Regions from separate parts of the Homo sapiens genome. Here region 1 is linked to region 2. The links come from fine-mapping of genetic effects on gene expression. Tissue or cell type: whole blood. Region 2 holds a variant in brackets; the other region holds the start of a gene. All regions are shown on one strand. Distances are from middle to middle.

Region 1 (15,858 bases), 320 kb after region 2:
ATTTGGGGTGCGGATGGGGAGTAAAATCCATTAACATTCTCATGATACACATATATTGATTCTAGATAGATTAAGAGGTTAAACATAAAAGATCAAACTATGAAAAGGTAAGGGGAGAAACAGAAGTGGCTTCACTCGGGGAAAAAATGTATAAGCCTGAAAGCAGTGGAATCAATAAACTCAATTTACAATGCACAAAAAAAATTTTAAAATACCTTCACACTTAAAGTCAAATGGTTATAAGAAAAATTGAGAAAGTGTTTTAACATCTGACATGGTTATCTCAAATATAAATAAAATGATACTAAGACACCTATAGATAAGTGGACATGAGCGGTAATCTAAAAAAGAAATAACTAATAAGATTTGAAAACCTACCCAAACTAAGGGCATAATTAACTAGGCATTATAAGGAGATTATTAGAGATTCAGACAAAATTCATAAGCAAAGTTGTTTATTTAAAATCAGAAAATATAAAGATGCTGAGTCCCAAAAATGTGATAAAATTAATATGACCTCTTTCCAAGTATAACACATTGCCTTTCTCTAACAGAAATAAACTATGATTCTTATTACAGTCTTAAAATTCTTTTTTTAATGAATGAGTGTAACTTTTTATTAAGATAGAATTATTTTTATTAAAGAAATATATGAAAATGGTTAAGTAAAATCAAATGGCTCCAAAAGTCTTACAATGAAAACAGTCCTGCGACTTGTTCTTTCCAGAGGAAAGCACTTTTCATTCTCTTAGTTTTTCCTTCTGGTAGTTACCTCCATGGGTTTTAAAAAATTACTATTTTTTTAGTTTTTCAAGTGAATACATATATTAATACATGTAATCTTTAAAAGCCTCTTCAGTTTATAATGCATCCTAACAGTCCCCTGCCCCATCCCTCCTAATTCTCTGGAGCAATGACTTCTAACTCTTCTAGCAATGTTCCATTCTTTTCTTCACATAACTACTTAGTCATTTCTTGATTATGTTATACATTATATAGTGATTTCTTGATATGACAGATGAGGATTTAGCTCTTACACCATCACTATCTTCACTTTTCCCCCCATATTGTCCCAAAGTAGTTACCAGATTTAGGGGCTAAGCAGTCAGTCACCACATCATTATGACTATGTACATATTGCCCATTGTTGAGAAAAACAGCGTATGATGCTCTTACTTCCTATCCTGTACTTCTTCCTGCCCTAGAATTAATTATTGCCTAACCAACCCTTCCCCCTTGTTTTTTTTTGTTTTTTTTTTTTTTTACTTTTGCTTTATCTTCAATGCACTTCTTTCCAAATGCCCCAAATCTGGCAATAACCTATTATTTTTAAGAGAAGGGATCTCACTATGGTGGCCAGGCTGCTCTGAACTCTTGGGCTCAAGCCATCCTTTTGCTTAGCCTCCTGAGTAGCTGGGACTACAAGCATGGGCCATCCCACCCAGCTAATCTATTAGTATTTTTACTGTTTCTTTTTAAAGCTAGCTCCATAGCTGGAATATTGCCTGTGTTGGATACTATTTGCTGGATCCACGTCATTCTCTGGTTTGTGTACGCCTTCATTTTGCTGGAGTATTTTCTCCGATAGCTTCCCAAGAAAGGGTACATGTAACCCCTGAGTCTTTGCTTGTCTAAAAATGTATTATTTTACCTTCACCCTTGATTCTTTGCCTGAATATAGATTTATCAGTTGAAAATAACTTTATAGAATTCTGAAGGCATGGTTCCGTTGTTTTCAGATTCTTTTTTGAGACAGGGTCTCTTCTGTCACCCAGGCAGGAGTGCAGTGGCAAAATCACGACTCACTGCAGCCTTGAACTCATGGGCTCAATTGAATCCTCCATCTCAGCCCCGTGAGTAGACGAGACTACAGGTGTGTGCCACAATGCCCAGCCAATTTTTGTATCTTCTGTAGAGACAGGGCTCCACCATGTTGCCCAAGCTGGTCTCAGGTGATCCACCCACCTCAGCCCCCCAAAGTGCTGGGACCACAGGCGTGAGCCACCACTCCTGGCCAGTTTTTAATTCTCTCTCTACTTCTTTCATTTCTCAAAGGCATCTCAAACTCAGTGGGCCCAAAACCAAAGTCAAACTCCATCAGAATATCCTGCTACTTCCAACTTTAAAATATATCTTAAATCACAATTTCTTACCACATGCAATCCTTTGGTTCAAACTACCATCATCCCTCACTTGAACCTAGAATTGGTTTTCCTGCTTCTGTACTTTTTTAAATTATAAAATATTTCAAATAAACCATGTGTGGCTTTATACTTTTTACTAAAAGAATGAAGATCTGCCAAGTGCAGTGGCTGATGCCTGTAATCCCAGCACCCCTGAAGGCCGAGGCAGGAGGATCACCTGAGGTCAGGAGTTCGAGACTAGCCTGACCAACATGGAATGTCCCCACCAAAAATACAAAATTAGCCTGGCGTGGTGGCACGCGCCTGTAGTCCCAGCCACCCAGGAGCCTGAGGCAGGAGAATTGCTTGAACCTGGGAAGGCTGAAGTTGCCGTGAGCCAAGGTTGTTCCATTGCACTCCGCCTGGGCAACAAGAGTGAAATTCTGTCTTAAAAAGAAAAAAAAAAAAAAGTATGAAGAGTTTACATACTTAAACATGGAATTGCTTTAAGTGTTTGGCATTCACCGTTCCCGTACATTACAGCAGCTTCTTTCAGCAAACACCTGGAACTTGCTATTGAGTAGGTGGAGTACGTTCTGCCCACACACAGGACAGGGAGCTGACAACCAAGGAGTGGGGGTTAAATACTCTAGCTTTCTCCCCTCCGTTTCCCTGTATCTCAGCAGTATGGAGCTCGTTACCATTGAGAACCTCCTCACTGATTTTGAACTGGTTTTTACCTTCTCAGTTCCATTTCTCCATACTTCGATTGATGACTTCTGGTATGACCTAGCAAATAAACTGCTTTCACTTAAATTTCAGTCTTGGAATCTGCTTTGGGTTCCCCAATCTAAGACAGAAATATATTCATTTTCCCATCACTGGACTTCCAGGTTGTTTTCAGTTTTTCACTGTTACAAAAAAGGCTGCAACATTTGTCTACAAACCTCTGGATATACATGTACGAAGCTTTTGGTATTTCCTACTAGTGAAACTGCTCAGCTGAAGGGTATGTGCATCTTCATCTTTAATAAATACTACCAACATTAGAAAAGCCTGACAATGTCAAGGAGTGGCAAGAGTGCCACATGTGATGGGTGTGGAATGGCAGCTCACTGTAGCAGGTGCTGGGGACTCAGTCGGGGTCTTGGAGAGACAGTTATAGCAAGAATGTTTCATAAATGGTATCTGATATAGCCAAGATTAGTGAGGAATAAAAACACGTTGCTTAGAAATAATTATCCATAGATCTGAAGTCAACAAAAGTCCCTTTTCTAATGTAAAAATGCATACTTTTCTCAGAGGGAGGGGGAACAACTTAAACCAGAAAACACCTTCATATTAATCATCCTTCTCACATACTTCAAATTTGTACTTGATGTGTTTCCCCTCCTGGACATCAGAGAGAACACCTGGGTATTCAGGCAGAAGTTTATATTTCTCCAAGTCAATTTCTGAAAAAAACGTGTCACTTTCAAAGTCCTGCATGATCCTTGTCACAAATAGTTTAAGATGGCCTAGGTGATTCATGGCTTCCTTATAAACAGAACTGCCACCAACTATCCAAATCATGTCTACTTTATTTGCTAATTCTGGTCGTTCAGTAAGTTTTAAGGCATCATCCAAACTTCTGGCAAGAAAATGAGCTCCTTGTGGAGGTTCCTTGAGTTCTCTGCTGAGAACTAAATTAATTCTATCCTTTAAAGGTCGATTCTTCTCAGGAATGGAGAACCAGGTCTTCCTACCCATAATCACCAGATTCTGTTTACCCTCTACTGAAGAAGTTGTGGTCATTCTCTGGAAATACCTGAATTCATTCCTGAGCGGCGGCCTGGGCAGGTCCCCGTTCTTGCCGATGCCCATGTTTTGGGACACAGCGACGATGCAGTTTAGCAAAAGAAACATGACAGCAGCGGTTAACACCTCCGAACTTGCTGGCTACGCCAGGAAGCCAGGCCAAGAATGCCGCGAAATTCCCTTCTTCAAATTTTTTTACGTGCCTACATTGCAAATACAATACCACTGTATTAATTAATTGCAACATTCTGGAATGAACATAGAAAAATAAATTATATAAAATATATTTATAAAGTATAAATTTATAAAATATTTATAAAATATAAATTTATAAAATTATAAAAAATACAGAGGCTGAAAGGTTAGACCGACTTTTCCACAAACATTAAACAGACGGCATCCAAGAGATGGCATCATTTCATTCCTGATTATCATAGTCTTTTGTACCAAATCTAAATTCTAATAAGATGCATTTTTTAGGTGACTTGGAAACTTGTTTAAATAAATAAATATATTAAGCTTCAAATCAGATTAGAAGGAAAGACATGTTTTTACATGAATATAAGACTTGTACCTATAGCATGTACGTATATTGATATGAGCATCAAGGAACAACTCAAAATGATGATTATTAACTATCAGGGACCATATCAAACCGGTTTTTTCTAATTGCTGATTGCTGCTACAAATGATAGTTACTGAAGCATGACACCAAAAGAGCAAATAAACTTCTATTCGTGTCAAAATAGGTGTAATAAACATCTTCCTTGGAGAACCATTAAACATTGCTCCCTTGTAAAGGTGAATTGGGGAGGCTAGAGTGGAGGGTCCTTTTGGTCTTCACGCATTTGGTATCAACGCGACAAAAATCACAATGATCACAATAGTGAAAATAATAGCAGCTAACATTTGGGCATTTACTGTTTCCTAATCACTGTTGTAACCGCTTTACATGCCTACTTCAGTTTAACACTCTCCATTAAAAGGAGAGATTATCCCCATGGGCCAGGTCTGGGGAAAAGCATGACTTAATTTCTTTTTCATTATATTCCACCCTTTTATCCTTGGGTACTGAATGTCTAGGTTAACAGGGGTCACTAGATTTGGTAGATTAAGTCAGTAACTAGCTTCGCTTTGAGAATATTTTAAATCAGTCATCATACAACATAACCCCAAAACTCATTCCTTTATTGAGCCCCATGCATATACACACTGTTCAGCACAATATGCGACTTTTTATTTATTTTTGAGACAAAGCCTCGCTCTGTCGCCCACGCTGCAGTGCAGTGGCGCGATCACGGGTCACTGCAACCTCAAACTTCTGCCCAAGCGATCCTCCCACCTCAGCATCCGCAGAAGCAGGGGCCGCACAGGCGCGCAGATGTGTGACTTTCTAAGGTCCGGCCGCCCAAAGCTACGCCGACCAATCCAAGTAGCGAAAGTCGCTTTGGCCCTGGCCCGTTACCTCCGCGTCCTGGGAAGTATCAGCCTTTACCAGCTACCGGAAGTAACTGCGCACGAAATCTCCCGCGGGAGCTAAGCCTCTTCGACAAGAATTCTATAGCGCGAGCAAATCAGTATCTCGCGAGAAATTGAAGAGGAAACGTGAGAATGAAAGTGGATGCCCGCGAATCCCGGAAGTCAGACTGTTTTTTTCAGTTCCCTGGAGGCTTTTTGATACTGATTCGCGTACACCTGTTGTTTGAAAGCTCTCAGCGGGACAATGCTGACCCAGGTGAGACCTGGGGCCCGGCTGGGTACCTCTATCTGAATGAGACGCTTCTGGACGCGGCCGAGGTGGCGAGGGAGGGTGCTGGGATGGGGGAACATCACCTTTGTTCGTCCCCTCGCGAGATCAGCGTTTCTTTGGCTTTACTGTCAAGCCCTGAAATAATGCTGAGTGCTGTAATGCTGAGTCCCTTCCGTCCAGCTCGCAGACTTCTAGTACCCACTCCCTCCAGCTCTTGGAGGGCTGAGATTTGTTTTCTGTGTCACAGCGGTATCCCGGGAGCTTAGAACAGTGTCTGTTACATAGTAGGCATTGAATACACGTTTCTTGGATGAATAAATGAAACAATTGCAAGGAAGTTCACGATGAAATTGGAGTGACTTTTCTCCCTAAATTAACTTTTCACTTTAAAATAACGTTGCAAAGATAGTACAGAGTTCTCAAATACCTTTCACCAATTTTTCTTGATGTCAGCATCCCCGGTGACTTTTTAGTTTTGTTTAGATACAAGTTCTTGCTCTGTCACCCAATCTGGAATGCAGCTGCTCCATCATAGCTCACTGTAACCTTGAACTCCTGGGTTCAAGCGATCCTCCAGCCTCAGCCTCCCTAGTAGCTAGGACTACAGGAGCAGGCCACTACGCCTGGCTAATTTTTTTTTTTTTTTTACTTTTTGTAGAGACACGTCCTTGATATGTTTTCCAGTCTGGTCTTGAACTGGGAAATGATCCTCTCGCCTCGTCCCTGCAAAGCATGAGCCAGCTGGAGTACAGTGGCGCGATCTCGGCTCACTGCAACCTCCACCTCCTGAGTTCAAGCGATTCTCCCACCTCAGCCCCCTGAGTAGGTGGGGTTACAGGCGCCCACCACTACTCTCGGCTAATTTTTGTATTTTTAGTAGAGACGGGTTTCCCGTGTTGGCCAACCTGGTCTTGAACTCCAGACCTCATGTGATCCTCCCGCCTCTGCCTCCCACAGTGCTGGGATTACAGGTGTGAGCCACCTGCCTAGCCCCTACAGTGACTTTTTAAAATTAATTTTGTTCCTTTTGACAGTTTCTTCAGCCCCAGTAGATTCTGTTTTAACCTTTGCTTCACATTTGGAAAATAATTATTTGGAAAAACCTTGCTTTTTCATAATTAGATAATGTACAGTTTTGGTACATGTAAGGTATTGCTTCCATTTCAAGAACTAGTAATTATCCAAAAAAAGTGTTCTTGTCTTAAAAAAAGACCTTGCTAATGTTGACGTTCAGTAAATTTGTAATATCACTGTGTGTCAGCAACTTTTTCTTATCGTCATAGCTGAAAGCAAAATCAGAGGGGAAGCTTGCAAAACAGATTTGCAAAGTTGTGTTGGATCATTTTGAAAAACAGTATTCCAAAGAACTCGGAGATGCCTGGAATACAGTAAGGTTAGTATAATTCATCTCGATGCTTTATGATGGAACAAAGTACAATATGTAGTCCTCCTTTTTGTGGGAGGGATGCTGTGAGGTTAAAAGGCAAAGGAATCTAAATCTGGTTGCCTTTTCCTACTGAAGCTATAGAAAGGAACAACTAAGAAGAAATAGAATGAATCATAGCATGTTGGAAAGGGGAAATAAAACTTTGTCGGGATGGTAAGCACAAATTGTTACGCCTTTGCTTTGAGCAATTACTTTGATCCTTGAAATAGGAATGCCCACTAGTTTGACAAAATTAATTATACTGTAAAAGAAAAAAACATAAAATTTGGAATATTTGACTGATTTCTGAAATTTAGAAGATAATACAACAAATCTTTAAAGCCAGCACTGCTTTATCTCAGCCAAAGGTACACTTTATTTGGTAATCATATTTCTTTCCTATGTCGATGGCTGGGTATATTTTGAACACGTGCATATACACACAAAATTATTTAAATATAAAAATAAGGAATGTTTAATGCATGGAAGTGGGAGAAATGTGATTTGTCTGTTTGGTAAGATGATGTTAATGTATGGATTACTGTATGGGTTCTTGACATTGAGTGCCTGATACACTATATAACCCTCTCTGGAATACAGAGCAAGACAGTCTGCATGTCCAGTTTACATGCCGTCTAGTTAGTGTTAATGGGAGAAGTGAGGAGATGGGTGTGGTTACAACTATATAAACTAATTTGTAAATACTGTGATCCAAGTATCTAACAAAGCCTGAGGGTGCCAGCAAAGGCCTGAAGGGAAGCTGGGTCTTGGTGACTTAGAGGAGTTACTTTGACAAAAAGAACTAGGCCTCCTAGGTTGAGGGAAGAAGGTGCACTGTTCATGAAGTTAGGGCAAAAGCCCACTACATGTTGCATGAGGAAAAAAAGTTGCATGGCTACAGATATTATCTGGAACTTGGTCCAGACTAATTTTTCAGATGGTTGGCTTGTCCATTTTTTTCTTGGATCAACTCTTAAGCATTTCTCCTTTACAAAGGGCAGTTCTGAGCATTTTCTAAAACAAATTAAGTTTTGGCTAATAAAGATCACAAAGTCTGAGGTGATTCTGAGATAATTTTAGGACAATTAAGCTGTTATAGAAATTGGTAAATGCTGTAATATGCAAACCGTTTATACTCGTGGGTTTTATTTCAAAAGTAGATTTTCAAATGGGTATTTTCTGTCACAGAGATGAAGAACTGAATAATAAAGTATGTAATAAATTTATGAGGTTTTCAGTATACAAAGGTACTCAAATAGAGTATCCAAATAACCAAACACTTATTGCATGTTTACTATATGCCAGACAATACTGACTTACATGATCCTCAGAACAAACCCGTTAAGAGTTTAAGTAATTTGCCCAAGTTCACTCAGCTAATAAGTGGCAGAGCTGAGGCTTGTGCCTGGGTTGTCTGACTCAATAACTCCCACAGCTCATCCTTGTTCTGTACTGTCTCATATCTGGGATGTGATTTAAAAAAAAAAAAGATTTCAAGAGGCTTTTTTTTTTTCTGTAGACTTTGTAGCAGTCTGGCTACTCATATCCTATAATGACTTATTTTTCTACTTAGTGTACTCAGAAAGTCATATACTATTATTTGACCCTGAGCAAAATGAGCAATGAACCTCAAATCCATTTAATTAGCTGTGCCTTCTGCTTCATTTACCCTATTGTGGGGTTTTTGTGGTAATTTAAGTTTTGCATAAACACACACTAAATTTGCCATAGGCAAAATAAAGGTTTCTCAGCTTAGGAAGTAGTCTGAGCATGGAAGATGGTATGGGGAAATAAGAACAGAATGAAATATTTTGTGTTTTAACTGCTTGTTTGCAAGACATAATGTACTTGTAGAGTCTACTTCCAGGGAAAGTCAAGTGCTCTTTTTTTGGCCTATTTAGAAAGTAATTTATTCAATATTTTTAGTTTCCTGTAGTAGTGAGGAAGATTTAGTATTTAGTTTTGCTCTTTTTTAGTAACCTTTCTTGTCTAGTCATCCTCTGAGCAGCCCTTTAAAATTGGAGTTTACCCTGGTTCAATTCTTGCTCTATTTGTTGCCTCCATGTTCTCCTCAGGTAAGCCCATTCATGGCATGACTTTTATCAGTATGCTGTCATCTCAAGCTGTGAGGTTCTTCCTAAGATTTAGTCCCATACTTCTGTTTTTTAGCAACTTCAGTTACTTGGCAAACTCAAAAGTGTATTATTATTTTTCCCTTTCAAACTTATGTTGCCTTTGCTACCTGCATATTTTATCTCAATTAAGTGTATCACCATCAGTCTGGTTTCCTCCTTTCTTCTCTATACCTTCACTACCTTTGTAGTAAAAAATGAACCTTATATAAAAATAGGTCTGGCAACTGCCCTCAGCTCCTGGGAGGCGATCTCTAAGCCCTTGGAATGTGCTTCCTGATAAGTGTGTCTTTGTTTACCTGGGTGTTGAGGTCACACCTGATAATCTAACGATGTGATTTATGTTGAGGCCTGGGGACCACAGGTGTCAACTCAACATCCAGAAGGGCTTGTGACTAAAAGCTGTATGGACAGTCAATCATATATACGTGACCAAGCCCCAATAAAAAGTGGATACCAAGGCTTTGGTGAGTGTCCCTGGTTGGCAATACTCTTGTGCATACTGTCATACATTACTGCCAGCAAAAGTTGACCTCGTTGATGATTCCGTTGGAGAGGACAGCTGGAAGCTTCATGCTTTGAATTGTTGTGAATTCTGCACTATGAGTCTCTTCCTGTGATTGTTTTTAATCTGTATGCTTTCATTATAATAAACTGTGACTATAACTGTGATTATAACAGCTTTCAGTGAGTTCGGTTGTGTCCCAGTGAATAATCAAACCTGAGAGTCATCCTTGGAATCCCTGAACTTGTAATTGGTGTCAGAAGTGAGAGTTGTCTTTGAGACTCAACTACCCTGCCCCCTTTTAATTTGGATCTTTTTAAAAAAATTCTCTACTGCTGCCATTCACTTAGACCTTCCCAATCTCTTATCTGGCATATTGCAACAGCCATGTTTAGTACTTACCTGTTTGCTTATTTTAGCAACCACTTTTATGGCACTATGTACCAGTCAATGTTGTAATCACTTTATGAATAATAACAATCCTATGTACAACCCTCTGAAATAGTTATTTCCATTTATATATAGGAAAGCTGAGGCACACAGAGGTTAAGTAACTTGCCCAAGTATACACATCTCACACTTTAACTTGCCCAAGTATACACATCTAACACTTTGAAGAGCCTTGAGAGTTTGTTGTACCCACTCTGTCATGCTGTTTCTCGGTGCTACCAAATTCCATTGTGTCACACCTTGAGTACAAACCTTTGCTCCCCAGAAGTCTGCAGTATTATGTTTGGACTAAAAATCTTATCTTTCTGGGCAGGCTCCTTCATGCCTTTGGGACTGGCTATGCTGTTCTTCTGCTAGGAATGCCTTTTTCCCTTCTCCCTCTGTGCAGTAGTGTGGGTTCAAATCCCACCTCTGCATCTTGTAGCATATGACCTAGGTGAGTTAATATCTCTGTGCTCCATTGTCCTCGTCTGTAAAATGGGGAAAAAATAGTATCTATTTCATATAATCATTTGGGAAGATAAAATGAATTTGTGTATATACAATGTGAATGGAATGTTGTTTGACGTATAGTAAGGACTTCATATGCATTAGCATTATTTTTGTTACTATGATTAACCACTTCATCAAGCCTTCTGTATGTCCCTTGGCAAAATTAGTTTTGCCCTTCGTGTATCCATTGCATTTTGTTGATAGAGCTATTGTGATTCTTTCAAGGTTTTATCGTCATAATTTACTAACTTGCTTATCTTTTTCCTGACAAGGGAGGGTTTTGAAGAACCAATACCTTGAGACTTGGGCAAGTCTTCTGCTTATTCCCAGTTTTGTCAGTGTTTGTGTACTAGGCATTGTGCTAAGCACTGAGAATACAAAAATGGACTGTATATATCCTGCCCTCAAATACATGTATGATTAATTGGATAATTAATGGATACTTAATAAATGTATGATTAATATAAGCATTAATTAGAAATATTTATTAACTGTGGAAATTTTACATGTACTTTATAGAAAGCAAAACAAACAGACCATATAAGTCTGAACTGTCTGCAACATCTTTTTTTTTTTGGACACTCTCCTCACTGACCGAGAGTTCACATACAGAGAGGAAAAAAAAATACACACACACACACACACACACATACACACACACAACCTGATAATATTACCATAATCTGTGAAGGATGTAGACTGAGGTGGTTAAGAAAGAGAGAAATGAACCAGTATCTAGATTTCTATATTGTCCTATATGTTGGCTTTACACACATTTTCAGCCTTAATCTGTGCAAATCTCTGTGAAGAAGTAACTTTTAGACACTTTAAAGTCAGAGGTTAGAACAATTGATAGGTATCTTGTAGTTGTGGCAAATTCAGTCCTGTGACTTAAAAGTCCACGCCTTTTCCTATACCATCTGTGCTGCTGTGAAGGGTCCAGAGTTGCATCCTTCCAAATGTATGCTCAGATCCCGTAGTATGAAGGACTCTTATGTTCAGGATTTTTAGCCTTTTGATGTTCCACCAGAAACGCAAAGGATTTCCTATCTGAGGTACAGTGAATAACAAATCTGGACATAAATTGCCCTTCTGTGAGATACAAGGAAGATCCATTGCCAAAATAGAATAGGAAGCCATCAGCTCTTCGTTAGCATCTCTGAGGAGTAAAAATAAAATGACTCAAAAACATACTTTGGTGCATTTCCATAAATTGATTTGTTTTTCATTTCTAACTTTTAAAAGAGTTGAATGAGCACCCTCTAGTGGATAATAATAGCACTAAATCAAGGAATTTCTCTTTTTTAGCTATGGAAATTTAAATAGGTTCTGTAATCTACAGGGTTATATTAATTGTGTTTAACAATTTCTAGATTAAATGATATTTTTCATCTTCGTCACTAGGACGGAAGGTAGGGTGGAGAGTAGAGTAGTAGGAAAAAAGAATAAAGTCACAGAAAAGTTGAATGAAAATTATACTATCAAATAATAAACATTATCGAAATGATACATTATACAGTTTTGCAAAATTTTAACTTAACTAGCTTTTAATTTTTTAATGCTTTAATTTTGTTAAAATAGTAAGTAGTTCAGAGAGCCTTGAATCAGAACTCCAATTTTATTCATTTACTCCAGGATTTAGGCCCCAGGCACTTAGCCAAGGAGAAAAATAAGTCAAGGCTCCCATATAAATGAGTTAGGGAAATGGGTAAGCAGGCAGGGTGACACACAGTGTGATATATTAGTTTAGCTTCATTAACTGTTTCTCAAAATTCAGTTATTCTTGTGTACCATCTGTCTAGTTTTACTTAATTTTTTTTTGGTCAGTTTTAATATTTTTCTTTTGTTTCTTAGGAATTTTTCTTTTGTTTCTTAGGAATTTATTTTTCTTTTGTTTCTTAGGAATTTAAGCTTATTTTATATCATTATCAGTAAATAGATGTGCCTAGCCTATAGTTGACAGACGGTGTATTTTTAGAGAATGAATGAATGTTGACAAGAAGATAATATACGATGGCTCACACCTGTAATTCCAGCACTTTGGGAGGCCAAGGCAGGAGATTTGCTTGAGGGCGGGAAGATTGCTTGAGGACAAGAGTTCAAGACCAGCATGGGCAATATAGCAAGACCTCATCTCTAGAAAAAATAAGCAATTAGCTGGGTGTGGTGGTGCGTGCCTGTAGGCGCAACTACTTGGGAGACTGAGGTAGGAGGATCGCTTGAGTCCAGGAGGTCGAGGCTTCACTGAGCCATGATCGCACAGCTGTACGCCAGCCTGGGTGACAGAGTGAGACCTTGTCTCTAAAAAAAAGAAGACAAAACAGACTTAGCATGTTGGAGGGAGGAGCAACAATGAGTGAGAAATAGAAAGACTTTTCAAGGGGGTATGTAGGCTCAGGCAAGTGACCGCAGTCAGTTTTCACATCCTCAACTTTCATGTATTCTCTTTCAGAAAATTACTCTGCCCCTCTGTACATAAGGGGGCACATATTCTCCTTTCCCAACCTGCCTTTCTCCAATTTCCCTTCACCCTTTTCACAAAAAGAAAGGCACACTTGCACCATTCTGGCTTCTATGCTATGTTCCTCCAGGTATTCAAAACCTCCATATGCCAGAAACTATTGGAGTGTCAGTGTGAGAAAGCAAATGACTAACAGATTCTCTGACAAGTCAGGTGGTTTCCAAGTTTTGCTTTCAACAAAAGTAAAGGAGCCTTGATTGAGATGTCAGCTATCAATTCATTTAAGACATTTTTGATGATAGGTTGCTAAGTGATTTGGGGATATAACTCCAAAAGAATTCAAAGTAAGAAACATTGCTATAACAAAATATATTTAATTCTCATCCACTTATTTAACTGAAGGTTTTTCTCAGCTTTTATAAAAAACACAAAATAGGCATAAAAATGATGTTGAATCCTGACTGATTTTATTATAGTAAGAAGTAATATTCATTTATGGATATATGGAAACAAAAGCTCATTTCATTAAGTATCCATTTCTTACCAATTTTTACTTTTATAAGTTGTTTTGATCGGTTTTGTACTAATAATATTATTGATCCCTGAATCCAGAAGTTACCATTTTAACACTTAGAGATTTAAGACCACAGGAAAAACAAATTTAGTACATACACATGTGTATATGTGGGGGCTAGAGAAGCATGATAGGGTGATAAAAAGATTTCAAGCATGAAAATATATTAAGATGAAGTTATATGAAGTAGAATGTAAATAAAAGAGGAAAACGAGCAGCATAAAATTTCCACCTGTTAAAGATGAGTCAGTCTATGAATTTTTAAATGGATGATGATGGGTATCAAAATCATTATGATATTTAGTTTCCACTGGGCACATACTAAAGGCAGTATAATTTGTATTTTAAAATGTCAATTTTTACAGTATGCTGGAAATTGCATCCTTTAAACATATGGTGAGATTTTAATGTCAACTTAAAATGTGTTTTTTTTCAAAATGATATCAGTGGTGCACTAGCAAATTTGCAGGTCACTGACCTTGTATGTCTCCAGTTCTGCTGGCTACTGAGGTACTTGCACTTCTTCTCACCTGGAAGACCAGTAAATGGAGCCGCTTCAGACTAACTGTGAATCTTGGGAAAAGGCCTGGAGTGTGGCACCTGGCCGCTGTTTTCTAGAGTCATCTAACATACATTCCCTCTACTGCCTGCTAAGCTACTTGCCCATCCATAAAAGCTTTGGATTCGGAAGCCACTTTCCCTCCAGCCCCAGGTTAGCAACCCACCCAGTGCAGGCACAGGAGGGGTTGTATGTGTGTGTGTTGTGGGGAGGAGAATGGAGGTCAGTGGCAGGTGTGTGCAAGGGGAACTGTAAGAATCATATTAATACACAGCTTTGCTTTCTCAGGGCTAGGAAGCACCAGCCTGAGCAGCCTTAGCAGTCCCTTCAAGAGTTGGTCTGTTGCAGCTGCTTCTATAGGCAGGATGTGGCAAGCTGATTTCATTGTTAGACAGAAGAGGGTTTCAGGGAGGTCATGGCCACTTGCACTAAGTGAGGGTTGGGGTAAAATTCTCTTTCTTGCCCCCTTTTGTAGCTCTGTGCTGTAGTACCAGGGTCTCACACGTTGGGAATCACTTCTGTTAGACTTTAAAGTCAGTCTGATTTTGAATCAGATACTTCTGCGTACTAGCAATGTGACCTCAGGTAAGTTGCCAAAATCTCTAAAAGCCTCAGTTAACCTCTAAAATAGGAGTAAGAGCTGCCTCTCTCAAGGTTGTTGTGATGGTTCTATGATATAAACATGCAAAATGAACATTGTACACATCCAGTCAGTAACATTTATTAATAATGATATCAGAGTATGGTGGAGGATGTGAACCGGGTGGTAAGTGGAAAGACTTCGTTGGAGAGAGAAAACTCCCTAAGTTGAGAACAGATAGGTGAGAGAGGAAAGGTTATTCAGGGAGGTTGGGGGCCGGGCATGTGGAGATCAGTAAATTTTAAAGAAACTTGTTAGAAGAAATCTGTATAGTTCAGTAGGGTTGGGTGTAGATCATGAAAGATCAAAAATTTCGTTTGTTCTATTTAGGCCTTATTTTGTCTAGTCACTAAAGAATGAGATAGAGTAATTTCTGAAGAGTTCTGCCTCAGTCTGCAATAAGTTCTTCTCTTTTTTTTTTATTATTATACTTTAAGTTCTGAGGTACATGTGCAGAATGTGCAGTTTTCTTACATAGGTATACCCATGCCATGGTGGTTTGCTGCACCCATCAACCCATCACCTACATTAGGTATTTCTCCTAATGCTATCTGTCCCCCAGCCCCTCACCACCCGACAGGCCCTGATGTGTGATGTTCCCCTCCCTGTGTCCATGTGTTCTCATTGTTCACCTCCCACTGATGAGTGAGAACATGCAGTGTTTAATTTTCTGTTCTGTGATAGTTTGCTGAGAATGATGGTTTCCAGCTTCATCCATGTCCCCGCGAAGGACGTGAACTCATCCTTTTATATGGCTGCATAGTATTTCATGGGGTATATGTGACACATTTTCTTTATCCAGTCTATCATTGATGGACATTTGGGTTTGTAACAAGTCTTTGCTCTTGTGAATAGTGCTGCAATAAACATATGTGTGCATGTGTCCTTATAGTAGAAGGATTTATAATCCTTTGGGTATATACCCAGTAATGGGATTGCTGGGTCAAAT
Region 2 (15,858 bases):
TTCAAAACTGCTCTATCAAAAGAAAGGTTCAACCCTGTGAGTTGAATGCACACATCACAAAGAAGTTTCTGAGAATGCTTCTGTCTAGTTTTTATTTGAAGATAATTCCTTTTCTAACATAGGCCTCAAAGGTCTCCAAATGTCCACTAGGAGATTTTACAAAAAGAGTGTTTCAAAACTGCTCTACCAAAGTAATCTTCAACTCTGTGAGTTGAATGCACACATCACAAAGAAGTTTCTGAAAATGCTTCTGTCTAGTTTTTAGGTGAAGGTGTTCCCATTTCCAACGAAGGCGTCTAAGCTGTCCAAATATCCACTTGCAGATTCTACAAAAAGAGTGTTTCAAAACTGCTCTAACAAAAGGAAAGTTCAACTCTGTGTGATGAAAGCACACATCACAAAGAAGTTTCTGAGAATGCTTCTGTCTAGTTTTTATATGAAGATATTTGCTTTTCTACCATAGGCCTCAAAGCGCTCTAAATATCCACTTGCAGATTCTACAAAAAGAGTGTTTCAAAAGTGCCCAATCTAAAGTAATGTTCAACTCTGTGAGTTGAATGTACACATCACAAAGTGGTTTCTGAGAATGGCTCTGTCTAGTTTCCATGTGAAGATATTTCCTTTTCCACCACAGGTCTTAAAGCTCTCGAAATGTCGACTTGCAGATTCTACAAAAAGGGTGTTTCAAACGCTGTCTATCAAAAGAAAGGTTCAACTCAGTGAGTTTAATTCACACATCACAAATAAGTTTCAGAGAATGTTTCTGTCTACTTTTTATATGAAGATATTTGCTTTTCTACCATTGACCTCAAAGCGCTCCAAATATCCACTAGCAGATTCTTCAAAAAGAGTGTTTCAAAAGTGCTCTATCTAAAGGAAAGTTCAACTCCATGAGATGAATGCATAGATCACAAAGAAGTTTCTGAGAACGATTCTGTCTAGTTTTTATTTGAAGATATTCCCATTTCCAATGAAGGCCTCAAAGCGGTCCAAATATCCACTTGCAGAATATAAAAAAAAAGTGTTTCAAAACTGATCTATCAAAAGGAAGGCTCAATTCTGTGAGATGAACGCACACAACGCAAAGAAATTTCTGAGAATGCTCCTGTCTAGTTTTTAGGTGAAGATATTCACGATTCCAACGAAGGCGTCAAATCTGTCCAAATATCCATTTGCAGATTTTACAAATAGAGGGTTTCAAAACTGATCTATCAAAAAGACCGTTCAACTCTGTGAGTTGAATGCACAGATCACAAGGAAGTTTCTGAGAATGCTTCTGTCTAGTTATTTGAAGATATTCCTGTTTCCAACGAAGGCCTCAAAGCGGACCAAATATCCACTTGCAGATTCTACAAAAAGAGTGTTTCAAAACCGCTCTATCAAAAGGAATGTTCAACTCTGTGAATTGAATGCACACATCACAAAGATGTTTCTGAGAATGCTCAGGTCTAGTTATTTGAAGATATTCCCATTTCAAATTAACGCCTCAAAGCGGTCCAAATATGCACTTGCAGATTCTACAAAAGGAGTGTTTCAAAACTGCTCCATCAAAAAGAAGTTTCAACACTGTGAGTTGAATGCACACATCACAAAGATGTTTCTGAGAATGGCTCTGTCAAGTTTCTATGTGAAGATATTTCCTTTTCCACCGCAGGCCTCAAAACACTCCAAATTTCCAATTTCAGATTCTACAAAAAGAGTGTTTCAAAACTGTTCTATCAAAAGGAAGTTTCAAATCTCTGAGATGAATGCACACATCACATAGAAGTTCCTGAGAATGCTTCTGTCTAGTTTTTATTCGAAGATATTACCGTTTCCAACGAAGGCCACACAGTAGTCCAAACATCCACTTGCAGATCCTACAAAAAGAGTTTTTCAAAACTTCTCTATCTAAAAGAAGATTGAACTCTGTGAGTTGAATGCACACATCACAAAGTACTTTCTGAGAATGCTTCCGTCTAATTTTTAAGTTAAGATATTTGCTTTTCTACCATAAGCCACAAAGCGCTCCATATATCCACTTGCTCATTCTACAAAAAGAGTGTTTCAAAAATGCTCTATCAAAAGGAAGGTTCAACTCTGTGTGTTGAATGGACACATCACAAAGAAGTTTCTGAGAATGCTTCCATCTATTTTCTATGTGAAGATATTTCCTTTTCCACCACAGGCCTTGAAGCGCTCGAAATGTCCACTTGCAGATTCTACAAAAAGAGTGCTTCAAAGGCTTTCTATCAAAAGAAAGGTTCAACTCTGTGAGATGAATGCACACATCACAAAGAAGCTTCAGAGAATGCTTCTGTCTACTTTTTATATGTAGATATAAGCTTTACTACCTTAGGCCGCAAAGCGCTCCAAACATCCACTTGCAGATTCTTCAAAAAGAGTGTTTCAAAAGTGCTCTATGAAAAGAAAGGTTCAAGTCTGCGAGTTGAATGCACAGATCACAAAGAACTTTCTGAGAATGCTTCTTTCTATTTTTTATTTGAAGATATTGCCGTTACCAACAAAGACCTCAAAGCGGTCAAAATATCCACTTGCAGATTATAAAAAAGAGTGTTTCAAAACTGCTCTATCAAAAGGAAGTTTCAACTCTGTGAGATGAATGCACACATCACAAAGAATTTTCTGAGAATGTTTCTGTCTACTTTCAATGTGAAGATATTTCCGTTTCCATCACAGGCACCAAAGCCTTCCAAATGTCCACTTGCAGATTCTACAAAAAGGATGTTTCAATACTTCTCTGTCAAAAGGCAAGTTCAACGCTGTGAGTTGAATGCACACATCACAAAGAAGTTTTTGAGAATCCTTCTGTCTAGTTTTTATTTGAAGATATTTACTTTTCTACCTTAGGCCTCAAAGTGCTCCAAATGTCCACTTAGAGATTCTACAAAAAGAGTATTTCAAAACTGCTCCATCATAAGTAACATTCAAATTTGTGAGTTGAATGCACACATCACAAGGAAGTTTCTGAAAATGCTTCTGTCTAGTTTTTATGTGAGAATATTCCCGTTTCCAATGAAGACCACAAAGCGGTCCAAATATCCACTTGTGTATTCTCCAAAAAGATTGTTTCAAAACTGCTCTATCAACAGAAATATTCACCTCTGTGAGTTGAATGCACACATCACAAAGAAGTTTCTGAAAATGCTTCTGTCTAGTTATTTGAACATATTCCCCTTTCCAACGAATGCTTGAAAGCGGTCCAAATATATACTTGCAGATTCTACAAGAAGAGTGTTTCAAAACTGTTCTATCAAAAGGAAGGTTCAACCCTGTGAGTTGAAAGCACACATCACAAAGAGGTTTCTGAGAATGTTTCTGTCTAGTTTCCATGTGAAGACATTTTCTTTTCCACCATAGGCCTCAAAACCCTCCAAATGTCCCTTTGCAGATTCTACAAAAAGAGTGTTTCAAAACTGTTCTATCAAAAGGAATTTTCAAATCTGTGAGTTGAATGCACACATTACAAAGAAGTTTCTGAGAATTCTTCTGTCTAGTTTTTATTCGAAGATATTCCCGTTTCCAACGAAGAACTCAAAACAGTCCAAATATCCTATTGCAGATTCTACAAAAAGAGTGTTTCAAAACTTCTCTATCAAAAAGAAAGTTCAACTCTGTGAGTTGAAAGCATACACCACAAAGAAGTTTCTGAGAATGCTTTTGTCTAATTTTCTTATGAAGATATTTCCTTCTCTATCAGAGGCCTCACAGCGCTCAAAATGTCAACTTGCAGATTCTTCAAAAAGAGTGTTTCAAAACTGCTCTACCAAAAGGAAGGTTCATCTCTGTGAGTTGAATGCACACATCACAAAGAGGTTTCTGAGAATACTTCTGTCTAGTTTCTATGTGAAGATATTTCCTTTTCTAACAGGGGCCTCAAAGTGCTCCAAATGTTCATTTTCTGATTCTTCAAAAAGTTTGTTTCAAAACTGATCTATCAAAAGGAAGGTTCAACTCTGTGCGTTGAGTGCACACATCACAAACAGGTTTCTGAGAATGCTTCTGTCCAGTCCCTATGTGAAGATATTTCCTTTTCCATCACAGGCCTCAAAGCCCTCCAAATGTCCACTTGCAGATTCTACAAAAAGAGGTTTTCAAAACTGTTCATTCAAAAGGAAGATTCAACTCTGTGAGTTGAATGCACACATCACAAAAAAGTTTCTGAGAATGCTTCTGACTAGGTTTTATTTGAAGATATTTTGTTTTCTACCATAGGCCTCAAAGAGCTCCAAATATCCACTTGGAGATTCTACTAAAAGAGTGTTTCAAAACAGCTCTATCAAAAGTAATGTTCAACTCAGTGAGTTGAATGCACACATCACAAAGAAGTTTCTGAAAATGCTTCTGTCTAGTTTTTATGTGAGAATATTCCCCTTTCCCACGAAGGCCTCAAAGTGGTCCAAATATTCTGCAGATTCTCCAAAATTAGTGTTTCAAAACTGCTGTAACAAAATAAATGTTCACCTCTGTGAGTTGAATGCAGACACCAAAAGAACTTTCTGAGAACGCTTCTGTCTACTTTTTATGTGATGATATTTGATTTTCTACCATAGACCTCAAAGCGCTCCCTATATCCACTTGCAGATTCTACAAAAAGAGTGTATCGATACTGCTCTATCAAAAAGAAGTTTCAACTCTGGGAGTTGAATGCACACAACACAAAGAAATTTCTGAAAATGCTTCTGTCTGGTTTTTAGGTGAAGATATTCCCGTTTCCAACGAAGGCCTCAAATCTGTCCAAATATCGACTTGCAGACTCTACAAAAAGAGTGTTTCAAAACTGCTCTATAAAAAGGAAGGTTCAACTCTGTGAGTTGAATGCACAGATCACAAAGAAGTTTCTGAGAATGCTTCTGTCTAGTTATTTATTTGAAGATATTCCCTTTTCCAACGAAGGCCTCAAAGCTGACCAAATATCCACTTGCAGATTTTACAAAAAGCGTGTTTCAAAACCGCTCTATCAACAGGAAGGTTCAAATCTGTGAGTTGAATGCACACATCACAAAGAAGTTTCTGAGAATGCTCCTGTGTACATAATTGAATATATTCCCATTTCCAACGAAGACCACAAAGGTGTCCAAATATCCACTTGCAGATTTTACAAAAAGCGTGTTTCAAAACCGCTCTATCAAAAGGAAGGTACAACTCTGTGAGTTGAATGCTCACATCACAAAGTGGTTTCTGAGAATGGCTCTGTCTAGTTTCTATGTGAAGATATTTCCTTTTCCACCACAGGCCACAAAATCCTTCAAATGTCCTCTTCCAGATTCTACAAAAAGAGTGTTTCAAAACTATTCTATCAGAAGAAATTTTCAAATCTGTGAATTGAATGCACATATCACAAAGAAGTTTCTGAGAATGGTTCTGTCTAGTTTTTATTTGATGATATTCCCATTTCCAACGAATACCTCAAAGCAGTCCAAATATACAATTGCAGATCCTACAAAAAGAGTGTTTCAAAACTTCTCTATCAAAAAGAATGTTCAATTCTGTGAGTTGAATGCACACATCACAAAGAAGTTTCTGAGAATGCTTTTGTCTACTTTTCCTATGAAGATATTTTCTTTTCTACCATAGGGCTTAAAGTGCTCCAAATGTCCACTTGCAGATTCTTCAAAAAGAGTGCTTCAAAACTGCTCTATAAAAAGGAATGTTCAACTCTGTGAGTTCAATGCACACATTACAAAGGAGATTCTGAGAATGCTTCTGTCTAGTTTTTATTTGAAGATAATCTCTTTTCCAATGAAGGACTCAAAGAGGTCAAAATATCCACTTGCAGATTATACAAAAAGAGAGTTTCAAAACTGCTCTATCAAAAGGAAGGTTCAACTCTGTGAGATGAATGCACTCATCCAAAGAAGTTTCTGAGAATGCTTCTGTCTAATTTCTATGTGAAGATATTTCCTTTTCCACCAAGGGCCTCAAAGTCCTCTAAATGTCACTTGCAGATTCTACAAAAAGGGTGTTTCAAAACTGCTCTATCAAAAGGAAGGTTCAACCCTGTGAGTTGAATGCTCACATAACAAAGAGGTTTCTAAGAATGCTTCTGTCTAGTCTCCATGTGAAGATATTTCCTTTTCCATCACAGGCCTCAAAGCCCTCCAAATGTCAACTTGCAGATTCTACAAAAAGAGTGTTTCAAAACTGCTCTATCAAAAGTAATGTTCAACTCTGTGATTTGAATGCACACATCACAAAGAAGTTTCCAAAAATGCTTCTGTCTAGTTTTATATGAAGAAATCCCGTTTCCAACGAAGGCCTTAAAGGGGTCCAAATATCCACTTGCAGATTCTCCAAAAAGAGTGTTTAAAACCTGCTCTGTCAAAAGAAAGGTTCATCTCTGTGAGTTGAATGCACACATCACAAATTACTTTCTGAGAATGCTTCTGTCTAGTTTTTATGTGAAGATATTTGATTTTCTACCATAGGCCTCAAAGCACTCCAAATATCCACTTGAACATTCTACAAAAAGAGTGTTTCAAAACTGCTCTATCAAAAGGAAGGTTCAGCTCTGTGAGTTGAATGCACACATCACAAAGAAGTTTCTGAGAATGCTTCTGTCTAGTTTTTATTTGAAGATATTCCCGTTTCTCACGAAGGCCTCAAAGCAGTCCAAATATCCACCTGCAGATTCTACAAAAGCAGTGTTTCAAAATTGCTCTATCAAAAGGAAGTTTCAACTCTGTGAGTTGAATGCACACATCACAAAGAAGTTTCTGATAATGCTTATGTCTAGCTTCTATGTGAAAATATTTCCCTTTCCACCACAGGCTTCAAAGCCCTCCAAATGTCCACTTGCACATTCTACAAAAAGAGTGTTTCAATACTGTTCTATCAAAATAATATTCAACTCTTTCAGTTGAATGCACACATCGCAATGAAGTTTCTGAGAATGCTTCTGTCTACTTATTTGAAGACATTCCCATTTTCATCGAAGACCTCAAAGCCATGTAAATATCCACTTACAAAAAGAGTGTTTCAAAACTGCTCAATCAAAAGTAATGTCCAACTCTGTGAGGTGAACGCACACATCACAAAGAAGTTTCTGAAAATGTTTCTGTCTACTTTTTATATGAGAATATTCCCGTTTCCAAAGAATGCCTCAAAGGGGTCCAAATATCCACTTGCAGATTCTCCAAAAAGAGTTTTTCAAAACTGCTCTATCAAAAGAAAAGTTTACCTCTGTGAATTGAATGCACACATCACAAGTTACTTTCTGAGAATGCTTCTGTCTAGGTTTTATATGAAGATATTTGATTTTCTACCGTAGGCCTCAAAGCACTCCAAATACCCACTTGCAGATTCCACAAAAAGAGTGTTTCAAAACTGCTCTACTAAAAGGAAGGTTCAACTCTGTGAGTTGAATGCACACATCACAAAGAAGTTTCTGAGAATGCTTCTGTCAATTTTTTATTTGACAACATTCCACTCCCCAACGAAGGCCTCAAAGCAGTCCAAATATTCAATTGCAGATTCTATGAGAAGAGTGTTACAAAACTGCGTTATCAAAAGGACGGTTCAACCCTGTGAGTTGAATGCACACATCACAAAGAAGTTTCTGAGAAATTTTCTGTCTACTTTTTATATGAAGATACTTTTCTACCGTAGGCCTCAAAGTGCTTCAAATATACACTTGCAGATTCTACACAAAGAGGGTTTCAAAAGTTCTCTATCAAAAGGAATGTTCAACTCCATGAGTTGAATGTACACATCACAAAGAAATGTCTGAGAATCCTTCTGTCTAGTTTTTAGCTGAAGATGATCCCGTTTCAACGAAGGCCTCTATGCTGTCCAAATATCCACTTGAAGATTCTACAAAAAGTGGGTTTCAAAACTGCTCTAGCAAAAGGAAGTTTCAACTGTGTGAGTTGAATGCACACATCATCAAGAAGTTTCTGATAATGCATATGTCTAGCTTCTATGTGAAAATATTTCCCTTTCCCCCACAGTCCTCAAAGCTCTCCCAATGTACACATCCACATTCTACAAAAAGAGTGTTTCAATACTGCTCTATCAAAAGGAAGGTTCAACTCTGTGAGTTGAATGCACATGTCAAAAAGAAGTTTCCGAGAATGCTTCTGTCTATTTATTTGAAGACATTCCCATTACCAATGAAGGCCTCAAAGCGGTGCAAATACCCACTTGCAGATTCTCCAAAAAGAGTGTTTCAAAACTGCTCTATCAAAAGAAAGTTTCACCTCTATGAGGTGAATGCACACTTCACAAAGTAATTTCTGAGAATGCTTGTGTCTAGTTTTTATGTGAAGATATTTGCTTTTCTACCATA[G/A]GCCCCAAAGTGATCCAAATATCCACTTGCAGATTCTACAAAAAGAGTGTTTCAAAACTTGTGTAGCAAAAGGAATGTTCAAATCTGTGTATTGAATGCACACAACAAAAAGAAGTTTCTGAGAATGCTTCTGTCTACTTTCAATGTGAAGATATTTCCTTTTCCAAGCAAGGCCTTAAAGCACTCCAAATGTCCACTTGCACATTCTAGAAAAAGAGTGTTTTAAAAGTACTCTATCAAAACAATGGTTCGATTCTGCGAGTTGAATGCAAACATCAAAAAATGTTCCTGAGAATGCTTCTGTCTAGTTTTTTTATGGAGATATTTGCTTTTCTACCATAGGCCTCAAAGCCTCGAAATATCCACTTGCAGATTCTACAAAAAGAGTGTTTCAAAACTGCTATATCCAAAGGAAGGTTCAACTCTGTGAGTTGAATGCACACATCACAAAGAAGTTTCTGAGAATACTTCTGTCTAGTTTTATATGAAGAAATCCCGTTTCCAACGAAGGCCTCAAAGAGGTCCATATATCCACTTGCAGAATCTACAAAAAGAATGTTTCAAAACGGCTCTATCAAGAGGAATGTTAAACTCTGTGAGTTGAATGCAAACATCACAAACTAGTTTCTGAGAATACTTTGTCTACTTTTTAGGTGAAGATATTTCCTTTTCTACCATAGGCCTCAAAGCACTCTAAATACACACTTTCAAATTCTACAAAAAGAGTGTTTCAAATCTGCTCTATCAAAAGGAAGGTTCAACTCTGTGGGTTGAATGCACACGTCACAAAGAAGTTTCTGAGAATGCTTCTGTCTAGTTTTCACATGAAGATATTTCCTTTTCTAACAGAGGCCTCAAAGCGCTCCAAATATCCACTTGCCGATTCTACAAAAATAGTGTTTCAAAACTGCTGTATCAAAACGAGTGTTCAGCTCTGTGAGTTTAATGCACACATCACAGATATGTTTCTGAAAATACTTTTGTCTAGTTTTTATGTGAGAATATAACGGTTTCCAACGAAGGCCTCATGGTGGTCCAAATATACACTTGCAGATGTTCCAAAAAGAGTGTTTCAAAAGTGCCCTATCAAAAGAAATTTTCCCCTATGTGAGTTGAATGCACACATCACAAAGTACTTTCTGAGAATGCTTCTGTCTAGTTTTTATGTGAAGATATTTGCTTTTCTACCATAGGCCTCAAAGCACTCCAAATATACACTTGCAGATTCAACAAAAAGAGTGTTTCAAAACTGCCCTATCAAAAAGATTTTTCAACTCTGTGAGTTGAATGCACACATCACAAAGAACTTTCTGAGAATGGCTCTGTCTAGTTTCCATGTGAAGATATTTCCTTTTCCACAACGGGCCTTAAAGTGCTCCACATTTACACTAGCAGATTCTACAAACAGAGTGTTTCAAAACTGCTCTATCAAAAGAAAATTTCGACTCTGTGAGTTGAATACACACATCACAAAGAAGTTTCTGAGAATGCTTCTCTCTAGTTTTTATATGAAGATATTTGCTTTTCTACCATAGGCCTCAAAGTACTGCAAATATCCACTTGCAGATTCTACAAAAAGAGGGTTTCAAAAGTACTCTATCAAAAGGAATGTTCACATCTATGAGTTGAATGCACACATCAAAAAGAAATTTCTGAGAATTCTTCTGTCAAGTTTTTAGGTGAAGATATTCCCGTTTCCAATGAAGGCCTCAAATCTGTCCAAATATCCACTTGCAGATTCTACAAAAAGAGTGTTTCAAAACTACTTTATCAAAAAGAAGTTTCAAATGTGTGGGTTGAATGCACAGATCACAAAGAAGTTTCGAGAATGCTTCTGTCTAGTTGTTATTTGGAGATATTCCCATTTCCTACGAAGGGTTCATTGTGGTCCAAATATCCACTAGCAGATTCTACAAAAAGAGTGTTTAAAAACTTCTCTATCATAAAGAAGGTTCAACACAGTGAGATGAATGCACACATCACAAAGAAGTATCTGAGAATGCTTTTCTCTAGTTTTCATATGAAGATATTTCCTTTTCTACCATAGGCCTCAAAATGCTCCAAATGTCCACTTGCAGATTCTTCAAAAAAAGTGTTTCAAAACTGCTCTATCAAAAGGAAGTTTCAATTCTGTGAGTGGAATGCACGAATCACAAAGTTGTTTCTGAGAATAATTCTGTCTAGTTTCAATGTGAAGATATTTCCTTTTCCACAACAGGCCTCAAAGCCCTCCAAATGTTCAATTGCAGATTCTACAAAAAGAGTGTTTCAAAACTGATTTATCAAAAGGAAGGTTCAACTCTGTGAGTTGAATACACACATCACAAAGTAGTTTCTGAGAAAGCTTATGTCTAGTTTTTATTTGAAGATATTTCCTTTTCTACCATAGGCCTCAAATAGCTCCAAATGTCCACTTGCAGATTCTACAAAAAGAGTGTTCCACAACTGCTCTATCAAAAGTAATGTTCAACTCTGTGAGTTGAATGCACACATCACAAAGAAGTTTCTGAAAATGCTTCTGTCTAGTTTTTATGTGAGAATATTCCCGTTTCCAATGAAAGCCTCAAGGCAGTCGAAATATCCACTTGCAGATTGTCCAAAAAAAGTGTTTCAAAACTGCTCTATCAAAAGAAAGATTCATCTCAGCTAGTTGAATGCACACATCACAAAGTACTTTCTGAGAATGCTTTTGTCTAGTTTTTCTGTGAAGATATTTGCTTTTCTATCATAGGCCTCAAAGTGCTCCAAATATCTAATTGCAGATTCTATAAAAAGAGTGTTTCAAAACTGCTCTATCAAAAGGATGGTTCAGCTCTGTGTGTTGAATGCACACATCACAAACAAGTCTCTGAGAATACTTCTGTGTAGTTTTTCTTCGAAAATATTCCAGTTTCCAACGAAGGCCCAAAAGCAGTCCAAATAGCCGCTTGCAGATTCTGCTAGAAGAGTGTTTCAAAACTGCTCTATCACAAAGAAGCTTCAAATCTGTGAGTTGAATGCACAAATCACAAAGAAGTTTCTGAGAATGCTTTTATCCAGTTTTCATATGAGACATTTCCTTTTCTACCAGAGGCCTCAAAGAGCTCCAAATCTCCACTTGCAGATTCTACAAAAAGAGTGTTTCAATACTGCTCTATCAAAAGAAAGGTTCAACTCTGTGAGTTGAATGCACACATCACGAAGGAGTTTCTGAAAATGCTTCTGTCTACTTTTTAGGTGAGGATATTCTTGTTTCCAACAAAGGCCTCAAAGTGGTCCAAATATCCTATTGCAAATTCTACAAAAAGAGTGTTTCAAAACTGCTCTATCAAAAGAAAGATTCACCTCTGTGAGTTGAATGCACACATCACAAATAAGTTTCTGAGAATGCTTCTGTCAAGTTTTATATGAACATATTTGCTTTTCTACCATTGGCCTCAAAGCGCTCCAAATATCCACTTGCAGATTCTTCAAAAAGAGTTTTTCAAAACTGCTCTATCAAAAGGAAAATTGAAAACTGTGAGTTGAATGCACACATCACTAAATGGTTTCAGAGAATACTTCTGTCTAGTTTCTATGTGAAGATATTTCCTTTTCTAACATAGGACTCAAAGCATTCGAAATTTCCACTTGCCGATTCTTCAAAAAGAGTGTTTGAAAACTGCTCTATCAAAAGGAAGGCTCAACTCTGTGAGTTGAATGCACACATCACAAAGAAGTTTCTGAAAATGTTACTGTCTAGTGTTTAAGTGAGGATATTCCCCCTTCCTCCACAGACCTCAAAGCCCTCCAAATGTCCACTTGCAGATTCTACAAAAAGAGAGATTCAAAAGTGCTCTATCAAAAGGAAGGTTCAACTCTGTGAGGTGAATACACACATCACAAAGAAGTTTCTGCGAATGCTTCTGTCTAGTTCTTATTTGAAGATATTCCCGTTTCCAACGAATGCTTCAAAGCGGTCCAAATATTCTCTTGCAGATTCTACAAAAAGAGTGTTTCACAACTGCTCTATCAAAAGGAAGGTTGAACTCCATGAGTTGAATGCACACATCAAAAAGGAGTCTCTCAGAATGTTTCTGTCTAGTTTCTATGTGAACATATTTCCTTTTCCACAATGGGCCTCAAAGCCCAACAAATGTCCACTTGCACATTCTACAAAAAGAGTGTTTCACTACTGCTCTATCAAAAGGAATGTTCAACTCTGTGAGTTGAATGCATAGATCACAAAAAAGTTTCTGAGATGCTTCTGTCTAGTTTTTATTTGAAGATATTCCCGTTTCCAATGAAGGCCTCAAAGTGGTCCAAATATCTACTTGAAGATTCTACAAAAAGAGTGTTTCAAAACTGCCCTATCAAAAAGAAGGTTCAACTCTGTGAGTTGAAGGCACACATCACAAAGTAGTTTCTGAGAATGCTTCTCTCTACTTTTATATGAAGATATTTGCTTTTCTACCATAGGCCTCAAATCGCTCCAAATATCCACTTGCAGATACTACAAAAAGAGTGTTTCAAAACTGCTCTATCAAAAGGAATGTTCAACTCTGTGAGTTGAATGCACACATCACAATGTGTTTTGTGAGAATAATTCTGTCTAGTCTCTATATGAAGATGTTTCCTTTTCCACCACAGACCTTAAAGCGGTTCAAATGTCCACTTGCACGTTCTTCAAAAAGAGTGTTTCAAAAGTGCTCTATCAAAAGAAATGTTCAACTTTGTGAGTTGAATGCACACATCACAAAGTGGCTTCTCAGAATTCTTCTGTCTAGTCTCCATGTGAAGATATTTCCTATTTCACCACAGGGCTCAAAGCCCTCAAAATGTTCACTTGCAGATTCTACAAAAAGTGTGTTTCAAAACTGCTCTATCAAAAGAAAGTTTCGCCTCTGTAAGTTGAATGCATACATCACAAAGAAGTTTCTGAGAATGTTTCTGTCCAGTTTTCATTTGAAGTTATTCCCGTTTTCACAGAAGGCCTCAGATCTGGCAAAATATCCCTTTGCAGATCTTACAAAAAGAGTGTTTCAAAACTGCCCTATCAAAAGGAAGGTTCAGCTCTGTGAGTTGAATGCACACATCGCAAAGTAGTTTCTGAGAATGCTCCTGTCTGGTTTTTATATGAAGATATTTCCTTTTCCACCATAGGCCTCAAAGCACTCCAAATATCCACTTGCAGATTCCACAAAAGCTGTGTTTCAAAACTGCTCCATCAAAAGAGAGGTTCAACTCTGAGAGTTTAAAGCACGCATCACAAAGAAGTTTCTGAGAATCTTTCTGTCTAGTTTTTAGGTGAAGATATTCCCGTTTCCACAGAAGGTCGCAAAGATATCTAAATATCCACTTGCTGATTTTTCTTACAAATGAGTGTTTCAAAACTGCTCCATCAAAAGGAATGTTCAACTCCGTGGGTTGAATGCACACATCACAAAGAAGTTTCTGAGATTGCTTCTGTCTAGTTTTTGTGTGAATATATTCCTGTTCCCACCGTAGGCCTCAGAGCACTCCAAATATCCAGTTGCAGATTCTACAAAAGGTCTGTTTCAAAACTGCTCTATCAAAAGGAAGGTTCAATTATGTGACATGAATGCACACATCACAAAGAAGTTTCTGAGAATGCTTCTGTCTAGATTTTATGTGAAGATATTTCCTCTTCCACCACAGGCTTCAAAGCCCTCCCAAGTTGCAATTGCAGATTCTACAAAAATAGTGTTTCAAAACTGCTCTATCAAAAGGAAGGTTCAACTCTGTGAGTTGAATGCATACATCCAAAGAAATTTCTGAGAATGCTTCTGTCTAGTTTTTAGGTGAAGATACTCCCATTTCCTCAGAATGCCTCACAGCTGCAAAATATCCACTTGCAGATTCTACAAAAAGAGTGTTTCAAAACTGCTCTATCAAAAGAAAGGTGCAACTCTGTGAGTTGAATGCACACATCACAAAGAAGTTTCTGAAAATGCTTCTGTCTAGTTTTTAAGGGAGGATATTCCCGTTTCCTATGAAAGCCTCAAAGTGGTCCAAATACCCCCTTGCAGATTCTACAAAAAGAGTGTTTCAAAACTGCTCTATCAAAAGAAAGATTCACGTTTGTGAGTTGAGTGCACACATCACAAAGAAGTTTCTGAGAATGCTTCTGTCAAGTTTTATATGAAGATGTTTTCTTTTCTACCATAGGCCTCAAAGCGCTCCAAATATCCATTTGCAGATCCTTCAAAAATAGTGTTTCAAAACTGCTCTATCAAAAGGAAGGTTGAAAACTGTGAGTTGAATGCACACATCACAAACTGGTTTCAGAGAATACTTCTGTCTAGTTTCTTTCTTTTTATTATTATTATACTTTAAGATTTAGGGTACATGTGCACGTAGTGCAGGTTAGTTACATATGTATACATGTGCCATGCTGGTGCGCTGCACCCACTAACTCGTCATCTCGCATTAGGTATATCTCCCGATGATATCCCTCCCCCATACCCCCACCCAACAACAGTCCCCAGAGTGCGATATTCCCTTTCCTGTGTCCATGTGATCTCATTGTTCAATTCCCACCTATGAGTGAGAATATGCGGTGTTTGGTTTTTTGTTCTTGCGATAGTTTACTGAGAATGATGATTTCCAATTTCATCCATGACCCTACAAAGGACATGAACTCATCATTTTTTATGGCTGCATAGTATTCCATGGTGTATATGTGCCACATTTTCTTAATCCAGTCTATCATTGTTGGACATTTGGGTTGGTTCCAAGTCTTTGCTATTGTGAATAATGCCACAATAAACATACATGTTCAGGTCTCTTTATAGCAGCATGATTTATAGTCCTTTGGGTATATACCCAGTAATGGGATGGCTGGGTCAAATGGTATTTCTAGTTCTAGATCCCTGAGGAATCGCCACACTGACTTCCACAATAGTTGAACTAGTTTACAGTCCCACCAACAGTGTAAAAGTGTTCCTATTTCTCCACATCCTCTCCAGCACCTGTTGTTTCCTGACTTTATAATGATTGCCATTCTAACTGGTGTGAGATGGTATCTCATAGTGGTTTTGATTTGCATTTCTCTAATGGCCAGTGATGATGAGCATTTTTTCATGTGTTTTTTGGCTGCATAAATGTCTTCTTTTGAGAAGTGTCTGTTCATGTCCTTCGCCCACTTTTTGATGGGGTTGTTTGTTTTTTTCTTGTAAATTTGTTTGAGTTCATTGTAGATTCTGGATATTAGCCCTTTGTCAGATGAGTAGGTTGCGAAAATTTTCTCCCATTTTGTAGGTTGCCTGTTCACTCTGATGGTAGTTTCTTTTGCTGTGCAGAAGCTCTTTAGTTTAATTAGATCCCATTTGTCCATTTTGTCTTTTGTTGCCATTGCTTTTGGTGTTTTAGACATGAAGTCCTTGCCCATGCCTATGTCCTGAATGGTAATGCCTAGGTTTTCTTCCAGGGTTTTTATGGTTTTAGGTCTAACGTTTAAATCTTTAATCCATCTTGAATTGATTTTTGTATAAGGTGTAAGGAAGGGATCCAGTTTCAGCTTTCTACATATGGCTAGCCAGTTTTCCCAGCACCATTTATTAAATAGGGAATCCTTTCCCCATTGCTTGTTT

Evidence for each region. PIP is the estimated chance that this variant, and not a neighbour inherited with it, causes the effect.
Region 1: DHFR2 starts here. The variant in region 2 is fine-mapped to the expression of DHFR2 in whole blood (INTERVAL, PIP above 0.99). The same link has a PIP of 0.9 or more in aorta and sigmoid colon.

What each region holds. Positions count from the first base shown.
Region 1 is chr3:94,057,484-94,073,341 of GRCh38, forward strand. It overlaps DHFR2 (dihydrofolate reductase 2), which reads right to left and starts at 5,433. Exons shown (of 2, transcript NM_176815.5): 1 at 5,263-5,433; 2 at 439-4,123. The coding sequence starts at 4,028. The coding sequence ends at 3,465. It overlaps NSUN3 (NOP2/Sun RNA methyltransferase 3), which reads left to right and starts at 5,578. Exons shown (of 6, transcript NM_022072.5): 1 at 5,578-5,655; 2 at 6,954-7,063. The coding sequence starts at 5,644. RefSeq lists an enhancer at 5,472-5,711.
Region 2 is chr3:93,733,242-93,749,099 of GRCh38, forward strand. No RefSeq gene overlaps it. Among named protein-coding and RNA genes, the nearest start is that of PROS1, 230 kb to the right of the region's middle. The variant G/A (reference allele first, on the strand shown) is at 8,288.